Linked DNA regions of Homo sapiens. The protein of the gene in region 1 interacts with the protein of each later gene in a pairwise test. Each region holds a gene or a part of one and is shown in the gene's direction. Other genes may lie near its edges.

Region 1 (7,039 bases):
ACTAACTCCTGGCCTCAAGTGATTTACCTGCCTTGGCTTCCCAAAGTGCTGGGATTACAGGAGTGAGCCACTGCTCCCAGCCATAATTCCTTATGATTTATATGGTAGCTTTGAGCATTATCTCCATATAGAATTTTTATGCATAATTTCCAACATCATGCTGTTTGCCAAAAAATAGCCACCTTTAGTAGCTATAAATCGTAATAGACTGGATATGTGACTTGCATTAGCTTTTTTTCCCCACTTAAATTTAAACACGTTTTCCATTTTCTCAGGTTACTTTTGTTTTTTTTTTTTTTTTTTTTTTGATATGAAATCTCACTCTTTTTGCCCAGGGTGAAGTGCAGTGGCACAATCTCAGCTCACTGCAACCCCTGCCTCCCGGGTTCAAGTGATTCTTCTGCCTCAGCCTCCCAAGTAGCTAGGATTACAGGCATTCTCTACCACATCCAGCTAATTTTTGTATATTTAGTAGAGACGGGGTTTCACCATGTTGGCCAGGCTGGTCTCAAACTCCCGACATCCAGTGATCCGCTAGCCTCAGCCTCCCAAAGTGCTGGGATTACAGGTGTGAGCCACCACGCCCAGCCATTTTCTGTTTTAAGGTATTTTTAAAAGGATACCATGTGAAACCAGAGTGTATCATCCATAAACACAGTTAATGTGCCACTGTTTCCTTTTCCTAAAATGGCATTTTTTTTTTGCCTTAGGAAGTACATAATTTTATAGTGTTAACCTACCCGTGAGATTTGCTTAATACATCTTGATGTTCCTTGCCTCGATTAAATATATGGTGTCTTTTTTTTTTCCCATAAGGTATTGTAAGTATTACTGTTGTATTGCAGTCACTTTTCTACAGGTAATGGCTCATTCTTTTGAGACACTTACCTGTAATGATTTCTTGAAAACACATGGGGCCAGGCATGGTGGGTTACTCCAGTAATCCCATTACTTCAGGAGGCTGAGGCAGGCAGATCACCTGAGGTCAGGAGTTTGAGACCAGCCTGGCCAAAATGGCGAAACCCTGTCTCTCCTAAAAATACAAAAATTAGCTGGGTGTGGTGGTGCATGTCTGTAGTTCCAGCTACTGGGAAGGCTGAGGCAGGAGAATCACATGAATCTGGGAGGCGGAGGTTGCAGTGACTGAGATGGTGCCACTGCACTCCACCAGCCTGGATGACAGAACGAAACTCTGTCTCAAAAAAAAAAAAAAAAAAGGAACAAAAAAACACGGACATTCATTCTATTACTATATCCTATTCTATTGCTTTTTTTTTTTTTTTGGGAGACGGAGTCTCTCTCTGTCGCCCAGGCTGGAGTGCAGTGGTGTGATCTCCGCTTACTGCAACCTCCGCCCCCCGGGTTCAAGCGATTCTCCTGCCTCAGTCTATGAAGTAGCTGGGGCTACAGGCGTATGCCACCATGCCCGGCTAAGTTTTGTATTTTATTTTTATTTATTTATTTTTTGAGACGGAGTTTCTCTCGTTGCCCAGGTTGGAGTGCAATGGCACAGTCTCAGCTCACTGCAACCTCTGCCTCCTGGGTTCAAGTGATTCTCCTGCCTCAGCCTCCCCAGTAGCTGGGATTACAGGCATGCGCCACCACACCCGGCTAATTTTTTATTTTTGTGGAGACGGGGTTTCTTTATGTTGGCCGGGTTGGTCTCGAACTCCTGACCTCAGCTGATCTGCCCGCCTCAACCTCCCAAAGTGCTGGGATTACAGGCGTGAGCCACCGTGCCTGGCCTCTTCTGTTGCTATTTTTGGATATGAAGTCCCACAATTCTTTGGTGTTAAATATTTATAATAGCTAAAATCTATTTAAAATATATTCTGAAACTCAGTTTTTTGTACCAGCCTGTAAACACTAATGCCTGACTAGTTTTCCTCACTTTAACTCGGTTTATCAGATAGCTTGCACTAAATTAGAAAGGAGAAAAATTTGAATTTGCAATTTTAAATGGTATGGGAATGTGTGCCATCCTTTTTCATCTTGAGTAAATGTACAATATTTTTTGTTTTATTTTTAGGGTGAAGCAAGAAGCATTTCATTTGCACATCTTTCTTGGACTTGGGATATACAGTTCCAGTTTATTAGCAGCAACTGCTAGGGAAATGATTTTGGTGTTTTGGGTTAATTGCTTCTAAGAAAAGTTTCATAGTGGACTGTTTAGAAGAAGAAATGAAAGATCCAGTTTGGGATTATGAAATAAACCACAAATTAAAATTTTTGTTTAAACTGTCCAGGATCTGATTTAAAAATATGGTCTTTGTTTTATATGATTAAATGGTTTGTTTTCATAGATGATATGTTACTCATTGTAAAGACCACATATTTTTATTCAGCAGTGTTCTTTAAACGGTTTCATTTAAAAAGTAACTTTTTTTTTTTGCCTGTGAATTGAGTGCTCTGATGTAAAACTTCTCATGGAGTGAAACAGTGATTTATTTTAACCAAACATTCACCAAAGCAAAGAACGGTTTCAGACCTTTGAACTGGTATGGTTTGGCAGAATAGTTTTAAATTTTGCTGTATTTGATTACTTAGAGATAGGAATTTTTAAAAATCAAAACAAAAAATACCACAGCTTAGTGTAAATGACAATTTGGCGGTTTTATGTCTTTAGAAATGTTTTGCCTTTCTAAGCCTTGTGCTAAAGGCGTATAACGGTGGTGCCTATCTACTTAAGGGGGCATTCTAGTCTTAACTTAAAAGTTGTCTAAACTGTCCCTCCCTGGCTTTTTTTGGTTTGGGGTAGACCTAAGGGTGTTTGTTAGTCTCAAAACTGTGAAGTGACATGTCAGAACAGTCCAGACTGGTAAGAAAATTAATGGCTTCACTTGAATTTAAACCAGCTCTAGATAGGAAAAAAATCAGTCTCCTCATTTGCTTTTTAAATGGAGTAGTACATCCCATATTTTAGAACAAGTAGGGGTGCCTTGCTTAAATAAAAATAGCATTTAATGTATAATTGTGTGAAGGGTTTATGGATAAAGCTGTACTTCTGTCACAATGTGGCAGTACTTTCTGCTTTAATATTAAACAGCTTGTTATTTAAATATTGGACAAAATGGCTGGCTTCAAAATATAGTCATTAATAAACTAACTTTATGTGCACCTGTGTAGGAGAATCAAAATCCTGTATGCTTTCTTTGCCTTGTTCCTGTTCTCAGGGTGACGACTGCCACCAGGAGATGCAGTTCTAGTTCTTAAAATTAAATTTGCCCAGGTTTCTGACAGGTGATACCTGGAAGAGAGACTATGTCTTCTCTTACTTAATACATAACCATCTTTGATTACCAGCTAAGATGCGAAATCACTGTACTGTAGTCAATAAATGAAGACTTGTTTCAGGCTGAAGATTACCTAAGAGTATTTATTATTGGAGTCTGTGAGTCAACTGAATATATTATTACCTCAAGTCCTGCTATATTAATATAAGTAGTAAGGGTTAATTTTCGTGTGTGTGTTCTCTAAAATCCTGTGAACATGACTTAACCAGCTTAACATCATCAGTAGTACTGCCTAGATGGAAATGCGTTTTCATATATGGTTGAATATGCCAAGCTATGAGAACTGGTATCTGTAGTTGTACGAACTATTAGAATGTGATCTTTGTTGCTCTTTCACATTTGGTATCTGATTTGCTGTGGAAAAGATCTGTGGGGCCTACTGTGAGGAATTCATCTGCAATTGATTTAAGCTAATGAGTTTTATTTGCACATCTCTGGAAAAAGAATGCAAGCAAAGCATTAAAATGCTATATGATGGATGGGTAAGGTTGAAAGGATATATCTTCTTGGCACGCTACAGGCTGAGTTTTCTGTACAAAATGTGGCCATTATTGGGAAATCATTTTATGTATTTGAATGCTCCCTTTTGTTTTTGTTCATGATCTAGGCTAGTACGTAAGTGATTGCTAAGGTGGATGTAGTTATGGGAAAGGAAGAGAAGCACATAATACAGTAAAAGTAATCTTATTTCCATGCAAGTGGAAGACGGTACCGTCTCCCCACATTTGAGAAGACTGTTTTGCATCACTCTTTGCTATTGAAGGAAGCAGTGATGGTGAATTTCCTTCTGTTTGGGTTCCTTGTGTCTATAACTTCCTTTGTGGTAAAGCCATCAGGAAGAATAGTGGGAGTGGGGCATATGGTCAGGGTGCTCATATCCTGCTTTAGCCTAGCTGCTGCTTACGGAGTGCAAGGGAGAACTCTGAGAAGCAGTATGTAAATACCAGGGAGCTGATTGCTGAATATTGTGGTCTCATCTGAATATTGTGGTCTCATCTAAATATTGACACCAGGCAATGAAGCAGAAATAGAGTATGTGTCCCTTTATGCGTGGGTAACTTAAGCTTCTGTCATGTGGGAAGGGGGACCGAATCTTCCCTGGGAGGAAGGCTCCAAATTCTCACTACTTCTGTGTTACTTGAAGGGGGAAGCATAAGGAACCCAGTTTGAAGGCAACATTGTGTGCCATGAATCTGCTTATTAATCAACATGCCTTGTTAATGTCCTCTGCCCTGAACAGCCCTTACTCAGTTCTCATTTGGAAAGTTATTTTTTGGGGTTACATCCTGTTTGTTTCAGAATTTAAAACCCTCCATGGTGGGTCACTTGAGGTCAGGAGTTCAAGATTAGCCTGGCCAACTTAGTGAAACTCCGGCTCTACTGAAAATGCAAAAATTAGCCAGGTGTGGCACACGCCTGTAATCCCAGTTACTTGGGAGGCCAAGGCAGGAGAATCGCTTGAACCTGGGAGGCAGAGGTTGTAGCGAGCCAAGATCACACCATTGCACTCCAGCCTGGGCAACAGAGTGAGACTCTGTCAAAATCAAAAAAACCAAAATACAAAAAACTCCATTGTTCTGAGAGTTTCCCCTAAATTATCGGAAGACACTCACATTGAATTGGTAGGACCTATAGTATAGAGGAGAATGGTATGTATGTCAGCAGTAGAGTTCCAATCCAAATTGCGCTATCGCATTAGAAATACATTACCCTCCCACTCCCCAAGTTCAGCAAATTAGAAGAGAATCTGAAGTTTGTAGGAAGGGAATAAAGCTGCTATAAACATTTATGTGCAGGTTTTTGTGTAGACTCGTTTTCAGCTCCTTTGGGTAAATACCAAGGAACCAGGTTGCTGGATTGTAAGTTAAGAGTATGTTTAGTTTTGGAAGAAACTGCCAAACTGTTCCAACATGACTATTTTGAATTCCCATTGACAATGAATAAGAGTTCCTGTAGCTCCTCACCCTCATTAGTATTTGGTGATGTCACTCTTGCATTTTAGCTAATGGGTGAATAGTGGTCTCATCGTTTTAATTCCCAATCCCATAGTGATGTGGAGCACCTTTTCATATACTTAATCTGCCATCCTTATATCATCATTGGTGAGGTGTCTGGATTTTCTGTCCAGAATTTTAGTTCTAGTGGTTTTCTTATTTTTAGAAAGGAAGTATAGGAAGGAAGGTTTAATCTGTCTTAAGCCTGATTATATGAAAATCAAGAATAGGCTAGGTGTGGTGGCTGACATCTGTAATCCCCGCACTTTGTGAGGCTGAAGTGGGAGGACTGCTTGAGCCTGGGAAGTCAAGCCTGCAGTGAGCCATGACTGTTGCTGCACTCCAGCCTGAGTGACAGAGTGAGACCCTGTCTCAGAAAAAAAAAAAGCAGGCTCATTTTAAAGTTGTTTATATTTTATTTTTTGAAGGAAATAAACTTGAAGAGATACAAACGGTAGTGAAGATTCTCCTTCCCCTCCTGTAATTCAGCTGTTTAGTTTCTATTCTCGCACAGCCCTGTTATCAGTTTCTAGTGTAAGCTTGCAGTGACTTTTACTTTATTTATAAGCAAGTGTTAGTGGGTGTTGTCATTTCTTTTAAAAATATAAATTATACTGTACATGCTATTTTGTATTTTGGCTTTTCTCCCACCTAAACACCCTAAAGATCATTTTCTGTCAGTATATAAAATCTTGGTGATGCCAATACCCATCCCTTAGATTGTACAAGCAGCATTTTGCCATGCTTTATCCCATAGCCTGCCTCCTGCAGTCTCATCTTTTTTTCTATATGCATGTCCAAGTAAGTTGTAGACATTTTTCACTTTTAATCCTTTCAGCATACATGTCATGGGAATTTGTTTTTGTTTTTGTTTTTTGTGTTTGAGACAGTCGCTCTGTCACCCAGGCTGGAGTTATAGTGACGTGATCCCAGCTCATTACAGCCTCCACCTCCCAGTTTCAAGCAATTCTCATGCCTCAGATTCCCGAGTAGCTGGGATTACAGATGTGCACCACCACGCCTGACTAATTTTTGTATTTTTAGTAGAGATGGGGTTTCATCATGTTGGCCAGGCTGGTCTGGAACTCCTGGCCTCCAGTCATTTGCCTGCCTCGGCCTCCCAAAGTGCTGGGATTACAGGCATCAGCCACCACACCCAGCCGTCATTGGAGTTTTTTTGAGGGAGATTTGCAGTAAGGTGAATAAATGTTAAGTGTATCATTTGATGAGGTTTTTTCTTTTTTTTTTTTTTTTTTTGAGATGGAGTCTTGTATCGCCCAGGCTAGAGTGCAGTGGCCTGGTCTTGGCTCACTGCAACCTCCACCTCCTGGGTTCAAGGGAGTCTCCTGCCTCAGCCTCCCGAGTAGCTGGGATTACAGGTGTGAGCCACCATACCCAGACTCATTTGATGAGTTTTGATGTAAAAGCATGTAACTCAAACCCCTATGTCTGGAACATCTGTATTACATCTGAATTTTTTCACCTAGTCAATTCCTGCACCTCTCTCTCCTGTCCCTTCTTCCCTCCCCTGGCAGTCAGCTACTGTTAGGATTTTGTTCACTGTAGATTAATTTTGCCTATTCTAGAACTTCATATAACGGACTCACTTATGCAGTATGTATTCTGTAAGTTCCTTTTACTCAGCATGTTTGTATGTTCATCAGTGTGTTTAAGCTTTGTTCCTTTTTATGGCTGAGCAGTGTTCTATGTATGAATGCCACATTTTAACGTTTCACCTGTTAGGTGAACAAC
Region 2 (3,479 bases), on another chromosome or scaffold:
AATTCAATTCCCATTAGCAGCATTTAGAATACCTGTTTTCTTATAGCTCACTAAAAATGGATATTTCTATTTTTCTTAACTTTGAGGTATAGTTTACATGTAATAAATGGACTCATCTTAAGCATACAGTTCAATTAGTTTTGACCAACATATATGTACAGCCATGTAACCACCATCCCAATCAAGATACAGAATGCTTCCATCACCCCTAAAAAGTTCCCTCTTGCACATTTGCATCAGTTCCCCTTCTCACCCTAGGCTCTAGATAACCACAGATGTTTCCTGTCAGTGTAGGTTACATTCTGTCACTATATAGATGGATTCATACAGCATGTACTTTGGGGGCCTAGATTATTTTGCTTAGCATGTCTTTGAGATCCATCCCTGTTGCTGCTTGAATCAGCATGTCTTCCTTTATTGTTCAGCAAAAGGCCATTTTATAAATATACCAAAACTTGCTTATCAACATGTGAATAAACATTTGGGTCAATTCCAACCTGGGGCTATTGTGAATAAAGCTGCTGTATGCTTATATAGGTCTTTAAGCCATGACTCTCTAAAAAGAGGTAATCCACTTTCATACCTGGGAGGTCTGTGGACTCTAGGTATATCATCCACTATTTCAAATCAAGCAAATTTCCCAGAGGAAAGCCTAGATCTTGTTTTGGGATCAAATTAGCAGGATGAGGCAATGGTGCAAGATATAATTTTGAGAGCATCTTGGAAAGCTATCTGGAAAGCACCTGATCACCCTCCTCCTGTATCAGCAAGAAGCATAAGACTCCTAATGCTCACTGCCTTCCTCTGTCCACGTCTTCTGGCTCCAGACAAGTCTAAGAGTCCTGCCAAGTCAGTCCCTGTCCCCTCCCATGACAGGGGAGGGTCAGAGGAGAAAATAACGACAGGCATCATGCAGTTTAATGCCAGATCCCCTAAATAGCTCCAGAAGGCAGTAGCAGGGTCAGGCTACCCCACAGGCCACTTGAGCATCTGCCCAGTGGCCTCCAGGGTATTCCAGGTACTCTTCTCAGCTGCAAGAGAAATGTGTACTTTATACCTCAGGAGAGTTCTGTGCAGTGATTTACAGGGCCTACCTTCTGGAAGTAGAATGCTAACTTCTTAAGAGCAACAATCCTGCCTTATACGAATTTTTATACATGCAAGGTACATAGCAGATACTCAAATATGGTTCTGGGTAATGTATAATCTAAGCCCAAGATGTAGGCATGGACTCCTGACTTATAAGTATTCAATGTTTAATAGTTAAAATATGGCCTTTAACACTTCCAATGAAATATTTTCAGTTATCACTTTGAAATATTTTTCTTTGGAATTGAAACTAATGATGGAAATTTTATGTAGATGTATTGTAGACAGGTTGTTTTGTACCATTGTATTTTGAGAAAAGCCAGTAAACTTTATTCCTTCTCTTCCCTTCGCCATTCCCCTTCTGTAGCAGGGACCATTTGGGGGATGAACATGGGGGTTTGTTTTAGAGACAGAATCTTGCTTTGTTGTTCAGGCTATTCTGGAACCCCTGGCTTCAAGCTAGCATCCTGCCTCAGCCTGGGATTACAGGGGTGAACCACTGCACCTGGCCAGCAGGGGCCATTTTAGAGTAAGCTTTAAAATTCTAAGTTTTCAAAAAATTAAACTTGAAAAACAAGATAAACTTTGCAGTTATTTTTATTAAAAGCAATATGATAGCGAGTGGCACGTTTGCAATGGGAATCAGATTTTATAGAGAAGAATGGTTTACAGACAGCTTTTTAGGAAAATATCTCCCATCATAAAGGAGGGAGCTAGACCACTAAAGGAAAGCCTTCCGAGCCTTGCAGACCAAGAGAATCTGGACTGGGTCTGCTTGATTATCCAGGAGCTACATCACTAATGTTAGCTCTCATCTATTGCTCGTGGCAGAATGAGGTTTTTTATCAGGCATGTTTCTCTTCCCTCAGTTCACAGACATTGGGACCTTCGAGACAGTGTGGCAAGTCAAGTTCTACAATTACCACAAGCGGGATCACTGCCAGTGGGGAAGCCCCTTCTCTGTCATTGAGTATGAATGCAAGCCCAACGAGACACGCAGTCTGATGTGGGTGAACAAGGAGTCCTTCCTCTGAAAGTGGCTCTTTCTGATGCTACTGGACAATCTTTTCAGAAATCTACTTTTAGATAAACCAGCGCAGGCCTTAAACAAGGCATGCCACACCATTGCTGTTCCCCATCTGGTACTAATGACCTACTAGCCCTGGTTATTTTGAAAGTGTAATTCCCCTCTGACACAATATCCCTCACATACAAGATGGTGATGTACCACTCCCGAGAATATTCCCATCTGTATTTTGTGCTGATGTTCCTGCATCCAGTTGTTCTCGGTCATACTTTTGACCACTTGTGACTGGAGTTCAGTGGCCCTGGCAGGCTTGTCCTGCTCTTGACCATTCCACTGACTAACTTTGGTGTTTTGTTTCCAAGTTAAGTGATTCCTCCTTTTTTTTGTTCAATGTTAAATTTAAAAATAACAATGTGTATGGGTCCTCCCATGTGTAATATGGTAACATGTAACTTGCAGTGTTTGCCAGCTTTCAAAGCAGGCTTTGTGAAAATGTAATACAAACAGCAGTGAATGGGACTCAAATGTTGTGCTTCCTATAAACAGCTCCGCTCTTTCAGGGAAGGATGGTAACAAACTAGAAGGACAAATATGTACGTATTTATAACGTATTAAAACTCTTTTAAGTAGCTTAAGGTATTGTGCAATGGCCTAGCCTAGTAGAAATGGGGGAAAAGCATTGCTGTGGACCATTGTTAAAGTGACAGGAGTTGTAGGGTTACCCCTTTGACAAGCTTCCATAGTCTTCAGACACGCACATTGATGGCATCCCTACAGTCTTCTTCACTTGAACTTTGTAAAACTGCATATGGACCTGTAATCAACTTTTGATATTTCTTAATAAAGGCGTTGAAAATCATGCCCTGACTTGCATTCTTAATTTGGGCAATAATTATCTAGCAGGTGAATCCCTGCTCTAGGCCAGCTTCACTCAGGCCTGTATGCTACAGGATGACGGGGATGTATCCGGAGTAGAATTAGCACACCTATTCATGAATCAAGCCTGACCTTTTAGCAGGATTGCTCCAGCCAAGTTTAACAGGGCTAGCACAGGCCCAGGTGCTTGGCGGGCAATCAAAAAATGCTTGTACCTATCTCGCTCCATTACTCTTTCTGTGGTGACCCCTCCCCAGTTGGTGAGCTATGTGACTCAGTAGCAGGAGAGCAATGGTGCTATAATAGTGTGTGTACATCATGGTTGAGGCCTCCTTGCCTACTTCCAGCACCTTGCACAAAGCCCATATACCATACAGTTTAAGGATAAATTCCATAAGAAGGAAGTGAACTTCCTCTTGAAAAGTAACATGCTATTTTCCAATAATGTAATATTTACTTGGGCAGCACAAATCCTATAGTATTGGAA
Region 3 (7,039 bases), on another chromosome or scaffold:
AAGTTAAAAACTAAATTTCCACCAGATGTTTGGAAATACAAGTTAAAATCTTCTCTGGTTCTGTTTACAATATCCAGTGAGCTGCACAGTCCCGTTGATTGTTTTGGTAATAGTTTTATCTTTTCTTCCTGTTGCCTGTCCCTCTTACCACATCTGCCTTGGGTTACCACATCCCCATCCATCATCACACTGCTGCATGGTGCCTGGCTTATAGTAGGGTTCAGTTCACAGAATGTCCGCTCTGATTTGAGCTAGAGCAGTGACCTTAGAAAGTCACTGAATTAAAATGTGTAGAGCTCTACAAGTAATCAGATTAAATTCATCAAGCATATGTTGAAACCTACTGTGAACAATTTTTGGGAGATCAAAAAATGAATTAAAGGTGTGACACTTCCAAGAAGTGAGCCTGGTGAATAATTGGTGCTCAACAAGTCCTAGGGAAATTATAAGATGCAAGCACTATGCCAACAGGAGTATATTTTAAAAATTATTCTGCTTAGCAAGCCATTTGCATGTTTTCTGGAACTGATCTTTCAGATTGGTTGATAGCTCCAACTGAGTCTTTGAATTTGGTCAGTTGCTACATATGCCTGTTAGTTGATATCAAATCCTGCTAAAATTATTTTCACTGTATGTTGTAAGTTCCTTTGATAATAGTGCTTAAGTGTTAGTTGCTCAAAATGAATGATTAATTGCCTTAGACTTGTAAATCTGTATATGTAACCTCATGTAAGAATTGTATATACAACCTAGGCCAGGCATGGTGGCTCACGATGTTTGTAAACTCTTACTTGCTCATGATGTTTTATCAATCTTAATATGGCTAGTGCTAGTAACACTCAGGATAGCTTATTTGAGCACAGTAAATCTCTGTCAGGCTAATGAAAGGGGAGAGTAGCTCAGAGTCCAAAATAAATACTCCAAAAATGGATCTTTTTTAGCTTGGAGCGCATTTAGTAGATTTAACCTGTCAAGTGTCTTGTTAGGTCAGTTGAAACAATGGTTTTAATTGTTAGCCTGGTGGCTGGGCCGTGGGAGAGACACTTGCTAATATGTTGAGTGGTGGATGGAAATAAGCCCAGGATTATAACTTAGTCAGAGGGATCTTTGAAACAGGTTACACTGGAGAGGTGTCCACTGACTCTATGTGTGTGCTGCATTCCAGGCTTTTCTGAATAAACTGTGTGGAAGAAATATTTTCCTGATGGTTGCCAGTCATTTGACAATTTAAAGTTTCGGCAAGACTAAGTCTTTAAAGCCAAAATGACCTGTAGCGTTCTAGGTCCTTAGGATGGTGCCTACTACCTGGTGTGGAATCTTTGGTATTTCCCTGCTTCCATTGACAGACTTGTCCCAGTGTACTTCTGTCAACAGATGAGTACTTTTTATGTTATTTTTTTATGGTGATAAAACACAGTAAAATTAAATACACCTGAAGTTCTTTGCCAAATAAAGCACACTTTGAGCACATTGATTTATTTATGTATTTCTCTCCACCTTTATTGACACATAAAAATTGCATATATTGGCTGGGTGTGGTGGCTTACGCCTGTAATTCCAACACTTTGGGAGGCTGAGGCACGTGGATCACCTGAGGTTGGGGGTTCGAGACCAGTCTGACCAACATGAAGAAACCCCATCTCTACTAAAAATACAAAATTAGCTGGGCGTGGTGGCACATGCCTGTAATCCCAGCTACTCAGGAGGCTGAGGCAGGAGAATTGCTTGAATCCGGGAGGCAGAGGTTGTGGTGAGGTGAGATCGCACCATCACACTCCAGCCTGGATGACAAGAGCAAAACTGCGTGTCAGAAGAAAAAAGAAATGCATATATTTAAGGTGTACCACATAATGTTTTGATATATAAAAGGTCCTTATCCTTTTTTTTTCTTTTGAGACAGAGTCTCACTTTGTCACTCAGGCTGGAGTGCAGTGGCGTGATCTTGGCTCACTGCAAACTCTGCCTCCTGGGTTCAAGTGATTCTCCTGCCTCAGCCTCCCAAGTAGCTGGGACTACAGGCACCCGCCACCTTGCCCTGTTGGCCAGGCTGATTTTGAACTCCTGACCTCAGGTGATCTGCCCTCCTTGGCCTCCCAAAGTGCTGGGATTATAGACATGAGCCACTGTGCCCGGCCCTTGCCCATTTTTTAATTGGGTTATTTGTTTTTTTGTTGTTGAGTTGTATGAGTTCCTTTTATATTTTGGATAATAACATCTTGTCAGACAGATGGTCTGCAAATATTTTCTCCCATTCTGTAGGTTGCCTTTTCATTTTGTTGCTTGTTTCTTTGTTACATAGAAACATTTTAGTTGCATGTAGTCCCACTTACTTATTTTTGCTTTTATTGCTGGTCTTCTTGGTGTCACATAAAAAATCATTGCCAAGACTAATGTCATGGAGCTTTTCTCCTATGTTTTTTTCTAGGAGTCTTGGTGTTTCAGGGCTAACATTTAAGTCTTTAATCAGCTTTTAGTTGACTTTTGTGTGTGTTGTAAGATAAAGATCCAATTTCATTTTTTTGCACATGGATATCCAGTTTTCCCACCACCATTTATTGACAAGACTGTGCTTTCCCATTGTTTGGTCTTGGTCAAAGATTAGTTGGCCAGACATGTGTGGGTTTATTTCTGGGCTTTCTATTGTTTTCCATTGGTCTATGTATGTGTTTCTATGCTGATACAACACTGTTGTGATGACTGTAGCTTTGTAATATAATTTGAAATTACAAAGTAGGCTGCTTCCAGGTTTGTTCTTGCAAAATTGCTGTAGCTACTTGGGGTCTTTTGCTGTTCCATCCAAATTTTACAATTTTTTTTTCTATTTTTGTGAAAAATGCCATTGGAGTTTTGATAGAAATTGCATTGAATCTGCAGAACACTTTGGGTGGTATGGGCTTTTTAACAATATTAATTCTCTCAATTTATGAACATGGGATATCTTTCCATTTATTTGTGTAATCTTCAGTTTTTTTAATCACTGCTTTATAGTTTTCAGCATACTGATCGTTCCTCTCCTTGTTAAATTTATTCCTAAGTAGTTTATTCTTTTTCATTCTATTCTAAATAGAATTGTTTTCTTAATTTTTTTTTGGATAGTTCATTGTTAGTGTATAGAAGCACAATTGATTTTTGTATGTTGATTTTGTATCTTGTAATTTTGCTGAATTTATTCTAATGGTTTTCTGGTGGAGTCTTTAGGATTTTCTATATATAAGATCATGTCATCTGCAAAAAGAGACAATTTTACGTATTTTTTATTTGGATACCTTTTATTTCTTTCACTTTCCTAATTCACACTTTGAGCATGTTTAAAAGGTATTTCATAAAAAATGTATATGAGGGCCGGGCGCAGTGGCTCATGCCTGTAATCCCAGCACTCTGGGAGGCTGAGGCGGGTGGATCACCTGAGGTCAGGAGTTTGAGACCAGCCTGACCAACATGGTGAAACCCTGTGTCTGCTAAAATACAAAATTAGCCGGGCATGGTGGCAGGCACCTGTAATCCCAGCTACTTGGGAGGCTGAGGCAGGAGAGTCTCTTGCACCTGGGAGGCAGAGGTTGCAGTGACCTGAGATTGCACCATTGCACTCCAGCCTGGGCAATAAGAATAAAACTCCGTCTCAAAAAAAAAGTATATGAGGAATATATTCTTATAGTGCTTTGTGTGAAAAAATAAAATGGTAATGTATAATAAGACTAGAATATATTGGTATACAAGAAAACTTTAGAAAGTGTTGTTTTGTCTTTCATTGCAAATTAAAGGATACCTCTGACATGAGAGTAGTGAACAAGCGGTACGTGGTAATTTTCCTTTATCCTGCCTTTTGCATTTGGTCAAATCAAACAGAGTCAACAGAGAAGGTAATTGAGGCTCCCTCCACAGCTAACTGTTGGTTATCTAGTTCTTTGTTCCATTGGGGCTACAGATGTCAAATTTTTGGGAAATTTTAGCTGCAAATTCGGCTGTATTTTTCTTATTCATTATGAAAATGCCATGTGCTGCTTTGGGAAGTAATACATGCTTCCCTTTCATTGGAAGCATTTAAGTAGAAGTAGGGTAATAATAATGATTAACATGTACTGACAATTTACTTTGTACTATTTATCTTGGTATCAACTCTTTGAGATGAGAACTATTACTATTTTCTATTAAGATGAGAAACCAAGGCCTAGAGAGGTTAAATAGCTGGGATAAAGTGAAAAACTAATGACTGGCAGAGATGGGATTCAAACCTAAGGAGGTCTGATGTTAGAACATACACGCTAACTATTGTTACACACTACCTGTTCCTTGAGGGATGTGAATGGAGGGATTTGCTGTTTTGCTTGGGAGATTGTAATAGAAAGCCTTCCAAGGCTTTCTAACTCTTAAAAGACTAGGACTTTTTTTTTTTCTTTTCTATTTTTTTGAGGCAAGGTCTTGCTCTGTCATTTAGGCTGGAGTACATTGGCATGATTATGGCTCACTGCAGCCTCAACCTCCCTGGCTCAAGCGATTCTCCCACCTTAGCCTCCTAAGTGGCTGGGACTACAGATGTGCACCCAATGCCTGGCTAGTTATTTTATTTTTTTGTAGAGATAGGGCCTCACTGTGTTGCCCAGGTTGGTGTCAAATTCCTGTTCTCAAGCAACCCTCCTGCCTTCACCTCTCAAAGTGCTGGAATTACACGTGTGAGCCACCATGCTGGAACAGAAGGCTGGAATTTTGAAGTGGTCCATGTTACTTGTCAGGCCTACCTTGGTCCTCCTATTTACTGTTCCTCAACTGGGGCCTTCTTATCTCTGCTTATTAGATTGGCCCTCTACCAAAAGCTATCATTACTTGAAGCCTAGAGCAGTTAGCCTCAAATGTTAGGATACTAACCTTTAAAACACATTAGCATTTAAAAAAATTTAGATTCCTGTGGTAGGTCAGAGTTCTGTTTTACTTTGGGATATAGCGTAGTAATTTTCCCCCTTACCCGCATTGTTCCATGTAGTAGTTATTTAGGCAGCCTTAGCACATCCTGAAACAACATCCAGTCCTCCCTGTTCCAGGTTGCCACCTGTCTTTGGTCTTAGTTGAGGTAATAGGATTTTGCTTTGTTTCCCGGATCCTGTTCTGTGTCTATTAACTGTATTTTACCTTAGCCCTTTCCTGAGGCTCTATTCTTTTTTGTTTTTTGAGACAGGGTCTCACTCCCATTGCCCAGGCTGGAGTGCAGTGGTGCAATCTCAGCTCACCACAGCTTCGACTTCCCAGGCTCAAGCCATCCTCCCACCTCAGCCTCCTAAGCAGCGGGGACTGCAGGCGTATGCCACCATGCCTGGCTAATTTTTTTTTGTAGTTTTAGTTGAGACAGGGTTTTACCATGTTGCTCAGGCTGATCTGGGACTCCCAGGCTCAAGAGACCTACCAACCTTGGCCTCCCAAAGTGCTGATTACAGGCATGAGCCTGAGATTCTATTCTAGTAACATGCTTTGTTCTCTGGTTTCTAGAACTGGTCCTGCCACCATCTTTGCCAGACTCTCTCCCAGGGATCAGGTTGGCAGGCTTATCTGAGTTGTCAGATGGCATGGATTTCCGAGAATCTTCTTGTCTTTCCTTTACTGAGCTGTCTTCATCCATTGAAACTCCTGCCACCCTTATACTCCCTTAGCAGCCCTGCTACCTGTGGTTGTAGTTAAGAATATCTCCTACTCCATATTTCAGGAAGGGGCAGGACATTTTTTTTTTTTTGAGATGGAGTCTCGCTCTGTCACCCAGGCTGGAGTGCAGTGGTGTGATCTTGGCTCACTGCAATCTCTGCCTCCCCGGTTCAAGCGATTCTCCGGCCTCAGCCTCCTGAGCAGCTGGGACTACAGACATGTGCCACCATGCCCAGCTAATTTTGAATTTTTAGTGGAGACAGGGTTTCACCATGTTGGCTAGGATGGTCTCAATCTCTTGACCTTGTGATCCGCCTGCCTCGGCCACCCAAAGTGCTGGGATTACAGGCGTGAGCCACTGTGCCCGGCCAAGAACATTTTAAAATCTACCAATCTACCATTTATCCTGCCTTCTTTCCCTTTGAGGTCTCTTGGCTATATGCCACCTCTGCTCTGGAGGATTTTTGCATTTCTTTCTGGTTTGGGGCTTCTTAGAGCTTCCTTTGTAATTAGGATAGAGATAGGAAGAATGATAGACACAAAAGGTGTTTACCTTTGCTGCTTGCTTTACTTGCTATGTGTGTTTCTGCCTCCTGTGCTTGTGTACTCTGGGGCACTGAGCACACCATAGGTGACATGGTGCTAGATATGTTTAATGAGACAGTATGGTGCTGGTCTCCAGTGATGAGTGACAATGGACAACATTCATTCATTCACCCACCTCTTCCACAAATAGTAATAATTTATTTGTGACAGAATCTCACTTTGTTGCCGAGGCTGGAGTGCAGTGCAGTGGTGTGATCTTGGTTCCCTGCAACCTCTGCGTTTTGGGTTCAAGCGATTCTCCTGCCTCAGGCGCCCAAGTAGCTGGGACAACAGGCATGGGCCACCATGCCCGGCTAATTTTTATGTTTCTGGTAGGGATGGGGCTTCACCATGTTGGTCAGGCTGGTCTTCAACTCCTGACCTCAAGTGATCCTCCCGCCTTGGCCTCCCAGGGTGCTGGGATTACAGGCCACAAATAATTATTGAGCATCTACTGTGTGCTTTCTGGAAGTATATGATTTTTCACTCAAGGATTTTATACTTTAGTGGGCAGGGGTAAAATAGATAAATTCACTGCTGTGAGGTACAGTAATACTTAGATAATAGTGTGTGGAGTGTCTTGGGAGCAGCTGGGAGAGGCATTTAACCCAGCGGGTGGTAAGGAGTACTGGAAGGACAGCTTCCTGAAAAAGGTGATACTGAGCTGAGGCTTGAAGATATATTTTAACCTTAAAAATGAATTCCTCAGGGGGAAGAATGGATGCCTTGAAACTTGCTCTCAAGTTTTTCATGTGTTTCTTTTTGTAACTTAATGTCTCTACTTTGCATATGTCCCTTTGGCCTTTGCAGTCTCTATGTCTGTCAT

What was found.
Region 2: the proteins of GRSF1 (region 1) and CNRIP1 interact in a two-hybrid assay, tested with the Homo sapiens proteins (one study listed by BioGRID).
Region 3: the proteins of GRSF1 (region 1) and ERO1A interact in a two-hybrid assay, tested with the Homo sapiens proteins (one study listed by BioGRID).

Annotation. Positions count from the first base shown.
Region 1 is NC_000004.12:70,815,852-70,822,890, reverse strand, and holds part of GRSF1 (G-rich sequence factor 1), read left to right. Parts: intron 1-2,029; 3' UTR 2,030-7,039. UniProt on the Homo sapiens protein: Regulator of post-transcriptional mitochondrial gene expression, required for assembly of the mitochondrial ribosome and for recruitment of mRNA and lncRNA. Binds RNAs containing the 14 base G-rich element.
Region 2 is NC_000002.12:68,292,506-68,295,984, reverse strand, and holds the end of CNRIP1 (CB1 cannabinoid receptor-interacting protein 1), read left to right. Parts: intron 1-1,958; coding exon 1,959-2,123; 3' UTR 2,124-2,975; downstream 2,976-3,479.
Region 3 is NC_000014.9:52,685,555-52,692,593, reverse strand, and holds part of ERO1A (ERO1-like protein alpha isoform 2 precursor), read left to right. Parts: intron 1-7,039. UniProt on the Homo sapiens protein: Oxidoreductase involved in disulfide bond formation in the endoplasmic reticulum. Efficiently reoxidizes P4HB/PDI, the enzyme catalyzing protein disulfide formation, in order to allow P4HB to sustain additional rounds of disulfide formation.